Regions from separate parts of the Homo sapiens genome. Here region 1 is linked to region 2. The links come from fine-mapping of genetic effects on gene expression. Tissue or cell type: tibial nerve. Region 2 holds a variant in brackets; the other region holds the start of a gene. All regions are shown on one strand. Distances are between the middles of the regions.

Evidence for each region. PIP is the estimated chance that this variant, and not a neighbour inherited with it, causes the effect.
Region 1: CNTN2 starts here. The variant in region 2 is fine-mapped to the expression of CNTN2 in tibial nerve (GTEx, PIP above 0.99). The same link has a PIP of 0.9 or more in esophagus muscle, gastroesophageal junction, sigmoid colon and transverse colon.

The regions. Positions count from the first base shown.
Region 1 is chr1:205,038,375-205,046,374 of GRCh38, reverse strand. It overlaps CNTN2 (contactin 2), which reads right to left and starts at 3,163. Exons shown (of 23, transcript NM_005076.5): 1 at 2,981-3,163. RefSeq lists cis regulatory regions at 3,305, 3,397 and enhancers at 3,233-3,377, 3,325-3,469.
Region 2 is chr1:204,986,115-204,994,375 of GRCh38, reverse strand. NFASC (neurofascin) reads right to left here. Exons shown (of 30, transcript NM_001005388.3): 22 at 6,836-6,958; 23 at 5,570-5,743; 24 at 3,070-3,084. Among named protein-coding and RNA genes, the nearest start is that of CNTN2, 53 kb to the left of the region's middle. RefSeq lists an enhancer at 4,652-4,741. The variant G/A (reference allele first, on the strand shown) is at 3,946.

The sequences.
Region 1 (8,000 bases), 52 kb before region 2:
GTGTGAGGGGCTGGGGTTGACTTCCCCACCTACGTAGTGAACTGAATGTCTCATTAGGTAAAAAGGACACTGAGATGCGTTTGGGCCTGAGTGTGTCCTGGGATGGGAGGTGTTCAGGTTTTGGATGAGAATATCACACTCCTTGCTTTTGTTTGCATTCTCTTTGGTAAACAAAGAAACATGGGCTAATCTTGTAGCAAGGAATCATCAAACTAAGAAAGGACTTACTCTAGGATGGTTACCGTCAGGATACGGAGCCCACAGAAACTCCCATAAATGTTCCAGGTTAGCAACAGCCTCTGGGTGGTTTGTTTAGATTGGGGTTGTAGTCCTGAAGGATGAGGGGGTGGCCAGCATGCATGAGGGGATGAAAAGGATGTCTGCCTTCTTATGGATTCCTGAGTCACATCCACCTTTTACCATTTGAAAGAGGATTACTAGAAGTTGGAAGAAATTTACAGGGTCAGCCAGCCCAACCTTTGCCTCTAGGCAGGACTCTCTAACCTTGGACCAGACCCCAGTTCTCCACACCATCCTTAGAGTCATCTGAAAGGAGACTGCCCCACCTCCTCATGGCTCACTCTTCTAGCCAGGAAGTGTCTCCTGCAGTCTAACTTAAGTCCCTCTGGCTTCCCTGGCATATTCTTTGCTCTGGTTCTTCCTCCCCTGCATATCAATCACCTCTTCTCCAACCCCCTGGTTCTGCCCTAGGAATCCCTCCAAAAATACAAATACCACCCACACTCAGGCTTAGAGATTGTCTTTGAAATACGCTTTCTCACCAACGTTTGGCTCAAGGAGGTTTCTGAAGAGGGCACCATGCATCCTCCAAACCACCCCAAATGCGTTGCTTCCCTGGTGACTTTAGAGGCAGAAAGGATGCCTTGGGGTACACCTGTCTATGTACATGCTCCTAAGGAGTAAGTTTGGTCAGCCAGAGACGAGATGTGCAATCACCCCGTTAAGCACAATTCCTCGGAGGCCCATCCCACATGTGTCTCTATTTGAACAACTGCTGGCAGAGAAGGTGCTGGAATGGAGTTGCATAAGGAGTGAAATCTGGCAGGGGAAATGGTGGCGGCGGGAGGCTGAGGGCTGAAGCCGGTGGAGTACACGCGATGAGAGAAGGGAGTGCGAGGAAAGAAGGAGTAGAGGAAGGGAGGAGAGTAAGAGAGAAAGAGCCGGGAATGAGAGCAGACTCCTGGAGTCTGAGGCACTCATCTGCATAAGGAGTGTGCCTCTGCTTCCCTCACCGCTCATGGTGTGAGCACAGTGGTCTCTGCACCTGTGAGGCAGGTGGACCTTGGGTGACTTTGACATCATCAGGTCAGGGGCCCTTTCCTGTCTGTCTCACCTCCTGCCTCCCTCTTATTCGCTGAGGACTTCCACGGGAGATTAGGAAGGACTCTGACCTTGTGGCAAAAGCCCTGTCCATGGTTCTGCAGCTTGGCTAGAAAGGGGTTAACTGGTGGGCACCCTGGGGAGGGGCTTGGATGCTGCTGTCTTTAAGGGGAGAGCTCCCTTCTCCCAAGGCCAGGAGTGAGGGCACCTGTTGTGACCTCCAGGCCATCTCCCTGTCCAGGTGCGATCACAGCAGCCTCTCCCACAGGTGGCCCACCTTTTGCTGCACTCGATCTCCAGTGGCTCATCCGGCCCCTCTGAGTGGGACCAGGAGGTAGAGAGACTCGGAGGCTAAGTGAGCTGAGGCGTCTTTGGCCAGACGGTTGGGAGAGGAGGCCGAAACTGTTGCCCAGACGAGACCAGAACATCACCTGTGCACTGGGTTTCTTGGGCTGTTCCTCCTCCCAGCTCCTTCTGAGCAGAGGGAAAAGATGCTGAAACCCACCTTTCTCCAGGGCTGGGGCCATGGCATGCACAACCCCACTCCCTCCTGGCCTCACTGGACCCCCCCCCCCAGGACACAGGCTCAACCCCCAGGGGTCTGGGGCTAGAGGGTGCCCGTCTCCATCCCCAAGTAGCAGCAGGATTCTCCCCTTCCATAGGCACTGCCTTCTCCATGCCCCGCTGCTTCCCAGACCTGAGAGACCCTCTTGGAGAAGGTGACAGGATTCAGCTCTGGACACTCACTGGCTGGGGCTGCCCCCCACCTCCAGCCCATTATGTAAGCCCCACGGTGCTGGGCAGAAGGATTGCCCTCTCTTTCCAGAACTCCCCAGCTCTGCCCCTTCCCTTCCCCATACCATTCTGGCCCCAGCCCCTTTCCTTACTGGAAAGCCAAACTTTGTGCAAATTCTTCCCTCCCACCAGTGAGGATGGGGGGGAGGGATTTGAGGAGAAGCTAAGGTTGGGAGGGGGAAGGGAAGGAAAGGAATTTCAGCCCGGTAGCCCCAGCCTCTCGCCCTTTGGGATGTGACTGGCCTCAGGACTCTCCTCCCCGAGTCCCAGTTCCTGGACAGGCCCTTGCCCAAACTTGTGCTCCACTCTCCCCTCTCTCTTCCACAGCCCCCCTCTCCATCCAGCTGAAGCAAGACTTTGCAAAGAGGTCACCCTGCAGAGGTAGACCCTGGGTGACCTCAAAACTGGGGACTCCGGCTCAATTCCATGCAGGGACTTCTGGGGCAGGCCAGGGCCCAGGGCCTGGCTGTATGGACTGGTCCTGTCCTGGACCGGGTGCCCAGGGCCGGCCCAGGAGAAACTGCCCTCTCCACAGGCAGCTGCCACTGCCCGCTGGCCAACTGGAATTCCTGGACACACTCCTGGGGTCCAGCTTTTCGGCCAGGCTCGGCCTGAGAGAGCCCTGCGGGATGCCGCCCACGTAGACAGGGCGGAGGGGAGCCCCAGCACCCACCCTGGGGCTGAGGGGAGAAGTCAGAACGGCCCCAGCCTGCCAGTGTTCCTGTCCCTGTTCCCTCCCAAGTTACAAGGGGGATATTTACAGGAACTGAGCCGGGAGCCCCGGCCCATAACAGCACGCAGGGAAGTCCCTGGGTTGGAGGAGACAAAAGCGGTTGGCACCTACCTGGGGCGAGAGAAGGGTGTTGGCTGGGGCAGGTGGATGCTGCCCGAGTCGGTGAGCCGGGGCCGGCCGGGCCGCCAGCCCCTGTCTGGGCCGCTGTCCTTTGGGCCCTGGCGGCCTCAGCCGCTCGCTGTCCGGGTGCGGCGGCGGCCGCGGCGGCGGTGGCGGGTGAGGGCGCGTGTGTGTGAGCGCGCCCGGAGCCACTGCAGCATCTCTGCATCAAGATGTGCTCCTCCCTCTCCCAGGCTCCGCTCACTGGCTGGCTCTGGTCCTCAGCCAACGCTCGGGGGCCCTGGAGATGGCTTCCTTCTGCCCCCCTCCCACCCCACTTCCGTCCCCACCCTCCTGGCTTTACCTCATTTGCTGTCATTTAAGGACCAGGGAGCGAGCCCAGCGCGCGTCTTCCATAATGCATGGGCCGCTCATGGACAGGCCGCGGGGCGCTGTCTGGCCCGCCTGCCCTCCCGATCCTGCCCAGCCCCACTTCTAGTCCCCCTGCCCAGGGCTGAAGGGGCAGGAGAGGGGCGGGGTGAAGAGGGAAAAGAAAGTGGCTCTTACTCCTCAAACCCTGGAGACCCATGGAGCCAAAACTCCTGGTTTCCCCAGAAATCCCCTATCCGAGGAAGAGATCCAAATCAGAAATCCCAGCTTGCTGTGTGGGGCAAGTGGCAGGGAGGGGCTGTCTCTGTTGCCCGGTCCACCCCATGTTCCTCTTTATTGTTTCCCTTGTTCAAAAGTAGTTTGAGCTTTTTGTCAAAATATCTAAATATTAGAGGACATTTAAAAATACATAGTGAAAGTCCCTCAACCACTACTCTTAATAAATCTAAGTACATGCCCCCAGGTTTATTATTTTCGTGTATACAATTACATGGGTTAGTAGGGTTATTTCACACAAATGTGATTACATAAAACAGTAGGATTGGCCAAAGACTTTTAACTGTGTAACTGATCTTGGACACTTTTACGCATCAGTACGTTTGGATCCAATCCCATTTTTAAGCAACCAGCAGTGTGATGTCATGAAAAGCTCCCTGGATTAGGGGTCTGGGTGTCTGAAGCATACTCTGGGCTCCACAACCGACTGGCTGTGTGTGCTTGGCTAGGTGCCCTGCCCTCTCTGAGCCTCGCTGGTACCTGAAGGGATTAAAGATGGACACAGTCCTGCCAGCTCTGAGATTCTAAGTGCTCACCCTTGTCAGCGATGCCTTTCTCCTGCCCTGCTCCGGTCACGTGGGGGAGTGCCCAGGAAGGCTGTGGCCCGGAGGCGGAGGGACCAGCCATCTGCGGCACCAGTCGGCCCTGTCAGGCTGTCACTGTTGTCTCACCCCCCTCTGATCTGCCTGCTGTCCAGCTTGCACAGGCAAGACCGGTGAGCAGTCCAGATGCTGCAACAGCTGGCAGGGCCAGGCCAGCCTCCCAGTTTTAAATGGCTATACCTGTCAAGCCTGGATCATGGCTCCATGTCTCCCTGAGTGGAGGAGGTCCTGGGGACCTGGGCCAGAATGAGAGGGTCTGGAAAAGGAGAAGGAGTCGGGGAGGTTCTGCTGCTCAGCCTCCAAGGCTGGAATGTCTGCCCAGGTCCCACATGCGCTCCCCTCCTTTCCTTCTGAGCCCCTCCAAAGGGCTTGCCCAACTTGAGAGATAGTCTTCTTTGTTCCTGATGGGGAGGACTTGGATTTTGCTAATGATGTTTCTTAAATAATGTTGAATGCTGTTATATAGACAGACACATCAACCCCTTGCCAGGATATCTTTCCCTTCCTTCCCCTGCCCACACTGTCCTTGCCTATCTGTATGTCTGAGGGCTGGCACATTGGCTCTGAGCTCCTGAGGTGAACCTTGCTCTTTGGCACCATTCAAGTCAGCCTGGGCTCCAAAGAGAGGCTCTGCAAGTTCTCTCCTAGCAGAAAACGGCAGGAACAAGTCCTTGCCAAGAAAAGGATGCTATGTCTGCTGCAGGGGGCTGACGGGCCAGGAAATAGGCTGGCCCAGGAACCAACAGTCTGGAAATGCTTGCAAGGATTGCTTTAGACGGAGACAGCTGTCTTTGTGACTCTATTTTAGGACAGCTGCTGCCCTGTGGTGGGAGCTGGGTCTCTGGGGAGGGTCGTTAGCACAGGTGACTTGGGTCTTAAAGACTCTCAGATCTCAATGCAACCAGCATGCTCCATGTGGACTCTGGCAGACACAATAAGTGAAAACAAGAACATTTGCCAAGCCTAGACTTGGATGGGGAGACAGTTCCCAAAGTCTCATCTTCTCACTTGTCTGAAGCTCTCAGTGAAGTCTAGTATGAATGAGTTTGGGGAGATTAGGGGGATCTGCACTCCCAGTCTCTGAGATGCTCCTGTTCCTGAGGAGAGAGTGGGGTGGGCATTTGGGGGTGCAGGCTGAGTTTTGCTTGTGGGGCCCATTAGCTTGATAATAACAGAAATAATATCTGTTTTGAATGCCTCCCACATGCCGGGAGCTGTGCTAAATGCTTTACCTGAATTACTTGCGCAAGAGGTCCATGTTGTTATTATCCTCACTTTTCAGATGTTGCTCAGTAAGAGTAAGGAACTTGCTCAAAAGAAATAGTAAACAAGTGGAACCCTGGGCAACGTGGCGAAACCCCGTCTCAACAAAAAACACACAAAAATTAGCCAGTGTGGCAGTGCACACCTGTAGTCCCAGCTACCTAGGAGGCTGAGGTAGAAAGATCACCTGAGCCTGGGAGGTTAAGCCTGCAGTGAGCTGTGATCGTGCCACTGCACTCCAGCCTAGATGACAGAGTGAGGCCTGGGATCGGCCTCCAGCATCCTGGCTTAGCCACCGTGCCATGGACTCCAGCTACCTACTGTCTGTTCTTTTGAGGTGGGCAAAATAGGGGGCAGAACAGTTTCTTCTTCTTTGGTGACATCCAGAGCCCACAATCTTCAGTGCAGCTGACCATAAGGGCCACCTCTCCTTTCTGTGGCTGATCAATATGACTCCATGTTGTCCAGAGCTGGGACTCCACATCTCAAAGTTGAGTCCCCACAGACTTTCAAACAGGGCAAGAAAGGGCCAGTGAAGATAATCAGGTGGCTAGTCAAATGGCTTATAAATTTGTCCGCAAACATGTGGTGCTCCCTTGGTGGTGGTGGGTGGGGATCAGAAAGCATTTTGAGGGCCACCCAACCCTGCCCAGACCATCTGCTTCTTCCTACTGTAGCCACACAAGATTGATAGCAATGGAATCCAGTGGGTCTCTAACCGATCAAGAAGGGACCTCTAGGCCCCATCCCTGGGGACAAGTGGGGAGGAGATGAGACCCTGCCATGGCCCCAGGATGCTGCAGCTTTGCTGTCTCTTTCCTCACCACTCCCCCGCCTCACCTCTCCTTTCCTGGCCTCTCCCGCCACCAGCATCTTTGCCCAGACCCTTTTCCCAGGAGGCCATGTATTTATGGAGCAGCTCCTCTGCCTGGAATGTAGGGATCCAAGAGCCAGGGGATGCGGTCTTCAAAGTGCCAGTGACCTTTTTGGAAGCAGTGTGACAGTGGTAACAGGACTGTCCATCCACAGCTCTGGGGAAAACTGATATGGCCATAAGGAAAAGCTCTGCAGACAGACCCGTTTGACACCCAGTCCTGCTACTGAGGAGATGTGAGGCCATGGGCAAGCCACATACCTCTTCACCCAGAATATGGGGATGAAGACACATACCTCACTGAGTTGATGTGAGTGTTGAGTTACACGTGAAGTAGCTAGCACAGCAGGTGCTCAATAAATGTCAGTATTTCCCTTTTGGGATTTAGCCTCCCTCATCTGTAAAACAAGGATATGAGGCAGAGCAGTAAGGGCTGCAAGTGGTTGGGGTGGCTCTGGATTTGTAGTCAAGAGAACTGGACTCTGTCCCAGCTCTGTCACTCCTACCTGGATGACTCTGGGCAAGTAACAGAATGACACTTAATCGCCCAGATAATCCATTTCTTCACCAGTAAAATAGGAATGATCCTACTCCTATCTAGGATGGTAGTGAGGATATGTGAATTAAACATAATGGTTTTTAAAAGCACTTTGAATTGCAAAGTGCCATATCAAATACTGATGGCCATTCCCTCAGCTATGCAGTCCAAAAGGTAGGGATTATCTCATCAGTCCGTATTCTCCCAGTCCCCCACCCTCCTGTTTAGCACAGTGCCTGGTGCATGGTGGAGACTCAATAAATATTTGTTGACTGGGTGAATGAATGAAGGAGAGTAGCTATAGTAACCATTCAGAGGATGAGGAGAGAGGGAGGTAGGATGTGGGTGAAGCTTTCAGTGGGGGTGGGTGGGTGCATCTTGAATTGAGCCTGGATGGACAGAGAGGAGGTGGGGAATGTGTTTCTGGCATGGGGGCATGTGGTGTGGCAGGAGCCAAGATGTGGGGCCTGGGAAGGCCATGATTTGTGTAATGCCTGGAGAAGCCAAGTTGACCTAGCAGGGGTGCTGGAAGGAAGATCTCAATGCCCTGTCTGCATTTGCCTTCCTAATTTCATGTGAGGGCCCAGAGGGGTCTGTGGCCTGGAGGGGCCTAATTATTCTCTTTGCCATTTCAACCCAGGGCTCTTGCAGCTCCTTTTTCAGGCTTATAATAGATGATGCTAATGTCATTATTAATATTTAATAGTAATGATGCTAATAATGCCCTGCATTTATGTGGTCTCTCCAAAGAGCTCAAAGAACCCTGAGTTCTTTTTTTATGAAACAATTTGGCTGGTGTGGAAGGTGGGAGGGCAGGAGGGCAGGACAGTAGAGAGGGATTGAGTCACAAAGAAAGCAAAGCCAGAAAGGTGAAATGATTGGGCCAAGGTCACAGAGCAGTGGAGGTGGGGCTGGGCTAGGACTGGGTGCGTGGGTTCCCTGCCTGGAGCTCTGTCCTTGACTGCCCCAGGTCATCTGGGTTTAAGGAGGACGTTCCTGGTGGGGACATCTTTTGGTCCCGGTAAAAGCCATGCCATCCAGAGGATATGACAGAACAGTCTTGGGGGCAGCTGTGACCCTGGAAGTGGG
Region 2 (8,261 bases):
TTCCTCACCGGCCCTGCTGGGCAGAGGTAAGGATGAGAGATGGCTCTGAAGATGTTTCTACACTGCATTGTCCCCTCCCCTGATGGCCACTTCTGCCAAGTGTGGCAGAAAGGAAGCATTTTTCTCTGATGATGGCTACCTAGCTGCTTCCTGTCTGGCTCAGGCTTAGTAAGAGGGAGCAAGAGATGAGAGAGAGGAAAGGGGTCACTTTCCGGCAGCCTCCCCGGGGCTCCCACCATTGAAGTTACCATAGAGGATACAACCTCAGCTGGCTAAGGTCACTGCTGGCACATCTCCGACCCACTCATTAGCTGTGTCTATTGTCCCAAGGCAAGACAGGGCCTCCAGAGAGCTAGGGAGGGTGGAGGAAAGAAGAAAAGCCTCCGAGGGAAGGTGCAGAAGAGTCAGGCAGTGAGCTGTCAGGGGGCTAGTACAGGTGGGAACGAGAGGAGGACAAGTGTTCCATGGGGAAAACCTTCCACTGCTCAGGTCTAAGGAGATTCAGATTATTTCATCCCCTGGGGCTGAGGTGGAGGAGAGGATAGAAGAGCAACGAAGCTGAGAAGTAGGGCTTACCAACAGAGCAGCACCAGGCTGGGCAGACACATGACTGGGCTAGGATGTCATTTCCTGCCGCAATAGGAGCTACAGGTTTGGAAGCAATCCTGGCCAGTGCTCAGTGGAGACCATCAGCCTGGCGACCAAGGACAGCGGGCAGAGACTCTCTGTTAGCTAAGGGGGGATCCTGAGTGGGCTTCGGCTGGAAGCACAAGGCCCTTCCTAGATGGCAGCGTCAACCTCACAGGTTTGTGACCTAATGCACACTGGAAGGCACCCTGGCTGCGGCCAAGGGTTTTCCAGGTGGGTTTCAGGGAGCACCATGCATGAGATGGAGAACACTGAGGAGAGATGACATGTGTCATTCATCTTTCTGTCCCAGAACCTGCCACGGAACAGGGCACCTATCAAGAGCCCACCAAACATTTGCAGACCTGAGCTGGGTCAAAGAAGAGAACAGCACTTCCTTACATTCCAAGGTGGAAGGTTTAGTCCAAAAATGTCCACATGGCGTGTTGACTACCCCGGCCAAATCACAGATTGTCAGACAGACGGGCAGCAATCCTAAGAGACTACAGATACAGGTGGATGAGAGGGATTATCTTCACTGGGTGAGAGATGAACAGGGCAGTTTGGGGAAATAGTGCCCAGGTTTGGAGAGGACGAGAGGGAAGACAGCAGTGGGCCGGACGCCAGGCCCACGTCAGAAACATGGAACCCGAGTTTCGTTGCTTGGCACCTGCTCATTGTGCAGAAGGTTCTTACGCATTTAAAGCTGAGAACAGCTGATGTTATCAGCACATCTCATTTCCAAAAAAGTGCAATCTGCCTCCACTGCCATGTCACACGGAAGCTGGAGCCCAGGAAACATTTGATTGAGACCGTGAGCTCATGCTGGATGAGTGTAGATCTTTTCTAAATGGGAAGTAGGAAGTGGGGTGATTGCAAAGATACCTCTCACCCACTCAGTAGAGGGACAGCACAGGCCGGCACAGATGCCCACTGAACAAGACAGACTGCCTGCCACCAGGCCCACCTGCCTTGGGTCCCAGGGTGCCAGAACAGGGGAGGTGGACGGGGAGCTGCTTCCCCATTGAGCTTGCAGCTGATTCGCCTGGTGCCCTCCCTGCGTTTCCTCTTCGTCACGGGAGAGACTTACGTAAACTTCAAGCAGGAAGTCAGGGAGGCCCCCAGTGTGGCAAGGATGGCTCTCACCCTGTTCCCCAGGCCTGGGATCACCTCTCTGCCTCACATCTTCACAGGGGTGTTCAGACCTTGTGGGGAGGCACTGGGGTGGTGGGTGAATGTTGAGGACTGAGGGAGAGAGGGAAGGATGATGGCAGCTCACCATCCACAGATCTGGCCGCAAAACATACACAAACTGAAGGAAGCAGGGTATGCAACAGAAATAGAATCAACCTAGGATGGGGGTGGGGATGAATAAGCAAAGGCGAGGAGGAAATCGAATTGGGCAAGGTGGCATCCCCTTCATAAGCCAACCCTCAGATTCCTGGCCCGGTCCTCAGCCCTCCCTCCACTGCCTGGCATGTAAGGAGGCTCTGCTGAGCACTTGCTTGTAGCCTTTGCTCTGCCAGGGTGAATCCTGTTCTCATTTCCCATCTGATGTAATTCAGGCTCAGAGGAGGGCCTGGAAAGGAACCCTGGGGTCCCCTGCCTCGTTTCTCCAGCCTGGGGACAGGCCAACTGTGATGAAGAGCCCTTTGATGACCCTCAAACCCATGACATGAGGACTGGAGAGGAGTAACTTGATTAGCAGGTCCTAAGCCCAGAGCTGCCCAGCACCTTAGTCCACTGTAGATCTACCTCCCATACCCCGAGAGTGGAGACTGTTCTTAACGATAAAGACTTGGAAAAGCTGGGTTTCTGAAGGGTGAGGAGATAATCAGCCCACGGTGCCTGCTGAGACTCCAGGAACTGGAGCACCTGGCCCTATCCATGGACATGCTTGCTTGTTCTCACTGAGCAGAGCCCGTGGTGGCTGGCAGAGCCGGTGCCGGGCCCCCATGCAGCATGCGAAGCTGGCATGCACAGCATGTTCACCCTTTCAGGAGATGGCAGCCCCACCAGGAGCCAGCTGTCCCTGCTCCTGCTGCAGCGCGCCTTCTAGGGCCACAGCTGGGGACACTGCTCTGAGCTGTCAAGCCCAGGCAAGGACTCAGGTGGTTAACGGGAAGTAATCTACTCAGTGTCAGAATGAAACTGCAGCTCCAGAGAGCAGGTCAGGGCCGGTGTGTGTGTGACCCCTGCTGAGCCATTCTCCTACTCAGCAGGGGGCAAATAGTTTGGGAAGGGGGGAAAGTGGGCTTGCTCTCCTCTGGTCCCATCCTCCACACACATCCCTCTTGACAGTCTGGCTTCCCAACCACTGAAAGGGTGAGTCTGGAGCATGCTTTCAGCCTGAGCCTCTCCCTCCTTGTCCGCCCTGGCTGGGCTGGGCTCCGCCTGCGCTGCCCCATGCCATGCCCATTACCTCCGCGGCTGGTACGGTACCTGCGGTTGGAGTAGCTTCAGAACACAGCGCCCAAGATGGCCAGACAGAGGGAGAAAGGATGGAAAAGGGAAGAGAAAACAGAGCACAAGTGAGACCACAGGACAAGGAAAGCAGGGAAGGTTCCAGCCCAAACCTTATGCAGACGGCGTGGCCAGGTGCTGGCTGCTGGCCTGAGGATGCCAACTGGCATTCAGGGTTCACGGTCAACTCCACCTGAGTCAGGCATGTTCCTACAGAAACCTTTCCACCTGGGCCTTGGAGACCTTTCTAACACACTGTTTCTACCTCGATTCAAGGACTGGACATCTAAAAGGTGGCTGCAGGGACAGTCCACTCAGAGCATTATGTTCCCAGCTCTGTCCTCAACAGCATGTCCTGCTCTGGCTAGGTTGGCATGACCTTTGAGCAGGCTGGGTGACGCTCCATGATGCCAGGAATTGAGGGGATAAGGAGTAGGTGGTGTGGGAGGACACCAACTCCAGTCAAAAGGATGGTTCCTGTCTTTGGGGGAAGATGCTGAATAGTGGGATGGATAGGAGAGAGGGAGCATGTTCAGCTGCACCCACTCCACACCATCGCAACCTTGGAAGGCGGGAACTTTGAAGGATGGAGCCTGGAGCCCCTCTCCTGGTATTCCGTCACTCCAATTCTTCCCCTCCAGTTGGACTTTATGAAGTTAGAAACCCAAGTTTGGACTGAGAGCCCTTTCTTTTTTCTTTCTTTTTCTTTTTTTTTTTTTTTTGGACTGAGAGCCCTAAGTGAAATTCTTGAATTTTCTGCAAAGCCCTAAGTTAAGAAAAAAGCCTCTATTTGTCCTTTTGTCCCCTGGGGCTGCAGAACATTCTCTGTGGTGGTTACTGGGGCTGGACAATAGG[G/A]CTTTGTTATCTGATGTTCTGTATTGGGGTGCACATAGGGAGGGAAGAAGGGGCTCTCTTTATCTATCTATTTGCAGAATTGAGTAATCAAGAAAGTGCATCATGGCCTGGCCTGGCCTGGCCTTTGGTGACAGACACACATCAGCCACTAACCTAAGTCCCCCTGCCCTAATAAACTTCCCGAGTGCCCAGGGGCTTGGGAGAGTGCAGAAGAGCACAGCAGGAGGGAGAGCTGGTTGTGTGACTCACTCCTGGTTTCTGAGACCAGAGAGGGATGCAGAGCGGGCTGTCAGCCTTTCTCTGCTTCTGCCTGGCCCCTCTTCTCCTGCCTCAGCGCTGGTCTACTGGCTAGAGTGGTGGGCTGGGGAAGGATGTGGGCAGCTTGTGAAGCTGCCTGGGATCCCGGGGTGACGCAGCGGGCCTGGTAGCCCCAGAGAAGGCAGCACTGATGCTCTCCTGGAATGCGGGTAGGGGTGGTATTCAGAAGACCCCGTCTGGGCCTGGGCCAGGCCACGGGACCTGACCCTTCTGTGGAAAGCACCAGACACGATGACTTGTCAGCTTCCAGAGTGCCCACTCACATCACCTCTTCTCTGGAGTCTTCCCGTGAAGACTGAATCCCCTTCTCTGCCCAGCCACTGCGCCCCCTCATTTAGACATGCAATTAGATATTCTTATAGATGACTCCCCCTCTAGATGGTGTGAGCTTCTTGTTACCTTTGTATATCCCTTGTGTGTGGCAGTGTCTGGCACCTCACATTGTGGGTACTCAAGAAATGGCTGTTGAATAGACCATTGTATCTCTGGAGACACACGGGGGTCCCCAGCCTTTCCCAGAGGGTGTGCCAGTATTGAGGCTTTTGCAGCCTTGCCTCCTCGAGAGGTCCCAGACTGCACATTCCCCTGATGCCAGTGCGTGTGCGGGTGAGCCTGGAGCCCCCTCTAGTGGAGTCCTCAGGCAGGTGCAGCTCTGGTGGGGCTGAAATGCTGCCAGATGACGCCTGGACCCAGGTGATGAACTCATTTGCTCTTTGTGAAGCTGGCTTGGCAAATGGCTGTTTCCTAACTCCTCCTCCTCTCTGCAGCCTGACAACGCATCCAATTCAGGCTGCAAGGAAGGACCACATTCTCTGCTCTACTCATGATGCCAGTAACAGCGTCATCCTGACGGTTTCCCCTACCTCCTTGAACCCATGTGCCTTCGAAGAAAGAAGGTTGTCCCCAGAGCCCTCATGGGAGCACTCACAATCATATTCCTGCCTCCCTCAAGAGGTGAACACTCACTGTTCTTTGGAGTTCATTATGATTTCTCTCATTTCTCAACTCATGCTCTCTTCCTTATTCCTCTACAAGAAGGAAAGATGATAGATGTCAAGTGACTGAGCAAGTCAGGGCAAGTGGGGACCCAGGTGTGACCACAGTGGTCCAAGGAGAGCTGAGCTCCAGATACAATGCCAGCACCTACCTCTCACACATAAGATGGGTTCTCACCTTCCGAGGGCTTGAGGACTTGCAAGTCTCATTTCCTCTCCATCCCAGGCAGCCAGCTACAGATCTCAGTGTTTCTCTAGGCCTCGGAATTAGCTGGGACCTTTTACCCCAGGGGCTGCTGCCATGCACCTACCTTCATTCGGGGGTGCTGGTGACTCCTCTGTGACGGCTTCCCCAGAGCCCACCTGCGTCCTGGCGCTGAGGGTAAAGCGGTAGCGTGACACGGGGTCCGTTCTTTGCACCGTGAACTTGGTCTGATTGGGAGAGAAGTTTTCCACTATCTGCTTTCCTACTTTGGTCCCGTTAACTGGGGAGAGAGAGGTAAGTGGAATTAAACTTTAGCAACATTTATTGATGGGTTATATAATCTGCAAGCTGGAGGAAGAACACTTTCCTGACTTTGCTGGAAAGGGAAATGATGGCACCTGCCTGGTGATCTTAAAGGCTTGGTTCAAAGGCAGAACACTCGGCAAGAACTCCCTCCGGGCTCTTTGATTACACCCAGGGTTAATCCTTCTTCACTGATCCTGTTGTCTCTAGCTCACTGCAGAGTTATGTGGCTGATTCAGAAAGATTCCGTTTATATTCTTAAGCCCTTTCAACAAGGACAAAACTCTTCACTTTCTTTCTTCCTTTCAAACAGAACTAGGACAACGCCACTAGGCCTTTTGATTCTTAATGCCTCCTTTGTAAAGTGCCTATTCAATGGACCTCAAAGGGTGAAAGGGTCTGGTCCAGAGATCAATTCAGAACAGCATACAAGCACAGAGTTGGCTATTAAAATTGCTAACAACACAACATTTGGCTCTTTGAGTTTCCTAACGAGGTACGTTACCTACTTTTGAAGGCCTAAAGTGTTTCAAATGTAATGGCACTCCTGTCCCTGCATGGTGATGCTGAGCTCTTGAGGTGGGGTCTTTCCAACCCAGGCTCCTGATTCGGGTCACCCCACAGTCACCGGGCAGCTCTACATGCAGCTGCCTTATCATAAATGACATCTTGTCAAGGGGTGTCCTGACTGTGGACTCCTGTGAGTATACTATCTACCCCATCAGGTGGAAGCTCCAGAGCTTGAGGAACTCTCTCTCCTAGACTCTGTACGTGTTGGAGACTACAAAAGATCCCTAAAGGCATGGCTGTCTGCTTCATTAGACTGGAGGTCCCTTTGTCTCATCAGTGAGACTAGAAGCTCCCTGCAGGCAGAACTATGAAAGGAGAGCAGGGATTGAGTCCCATCTGCCTCCCCTAATCCTATTGGGAACTGTTTCGTTGGCCCCTCCATCCCTCCACAATGCCATCTGCACCCACAGGCTTTCTACCTTGAGTCCTTAGGAAAAGTGGTGAGAATGGGGTTTCTGGTTCCCAGATTATCTAAGAGAAAGGGAAGGGCAGAACGTACAGGCCACATATTTGAGAGTGTATCCAATCATGATCCCATTTGGATGCTCAGGATGATCCCATTCCAGGTTGATTGTCTCCAGGTTGGGCTGCCGGACTCGGAAACGCCTAGGGGCACTGGGTACTTGGGGAAGGAGGAGAGAGCAGGGGAGATGAGGGGGAGGGGGCAGGGAGGATGAGGAAAACACAAAAAACAAAGCACAAGTATGAAGGCATTGACCTCTGGACAACCCCCATGCTCGACACTGCTAAACTGAAGCCTGGGAGAACCGTGAGACGACCGGAGCCCATTGCCCCATCCAGGATGCTATTTCCTTCAGGTCTGAGGACAAACATAGCTCAGACTCTGCTATTTAAGAGAGGAAGAAGTAAATCAGGTTTTCTTCTAGCAACTACTCTGGATTCAGCACATGTTAGGCTCTGATTCTGCAAAGATACCTCGAAATTGGGCAGAGCCATTCCTAGGTAGAGAACCACTTACAGCTGTTTTGTACAGAGGCTGCAGTTCCCTATCCTCAGATAAGGATTCTCATCACTGGGTCCAGGCAGCAGGCCCAGGCTTCTGAGCTGAGAATGTTGGGTTCAGGGGTAAGGAGACAGAAAGCCAGGGTGGAACATCCGGAAGAGGTGGGAGGGTGGGAGTGTTGGGGAGAGGCCAATGATGAAAACCAAACCAAGGGGAGGGAAAGACAGGGATAAAGAGAACAAGAGGGAAGAACAGAGGACAGGAGGAAGAGAAGAGGAAAAATGGGGAAAATAACAATTAAAGAGGGAGGGAGGAGAAACGGAGGAGGATGAAACAGATGCAAAGCAGATAAAAGAAGACTGGCAAGAACAAGGAGATGAACCAGGAACTTTGCAGTCATCTGTTAATTCATGAACTTGAATTTATGTGAAACAAAAAATAGGGGTTTTGACCCCAGGGCCATGTGAAACCATAGGCCTGCAGAAGGCGGGGCTATACTTGGGTATCCCTCTGCAGAGCCACCGCACACACAGGCCGACTATTTCAGTGACGGCTTCTTGAGAACGTGGGGGGAGAACCGTGAAGGTGTTGGGTGCTGGCAAACAAATCAGATGGTTCCAGGCAGTCAGGATGGACGTGCTGCCTTCTGCCTCGGAAGGTGGTGGGGTGGCCCAGGTGCCCGCCGTGCCCTCGGGGATCAGTCTGCATAACCCGTCTGGAATTATGTCAGCAGACCTCACAGGTCTTCTCTTGAGATACAACCTCCTCGCAGGGCAGGTCACCTTGGCGATGGTGGTCTGGGAATGGCTGTAGTGGCTCGGCTTGCAGGTCATCCGCTCCTGGAGGCCTCGCAGAAGTCACCTTGTGCCATCCATGCTGAGCCACGCTGGAGTTTCTCCAGGCCCAAGGTGTGTGCCACCCTTCTCCTGCCCCACCCTGAAGAGCTGCAGGCCAGACCTAC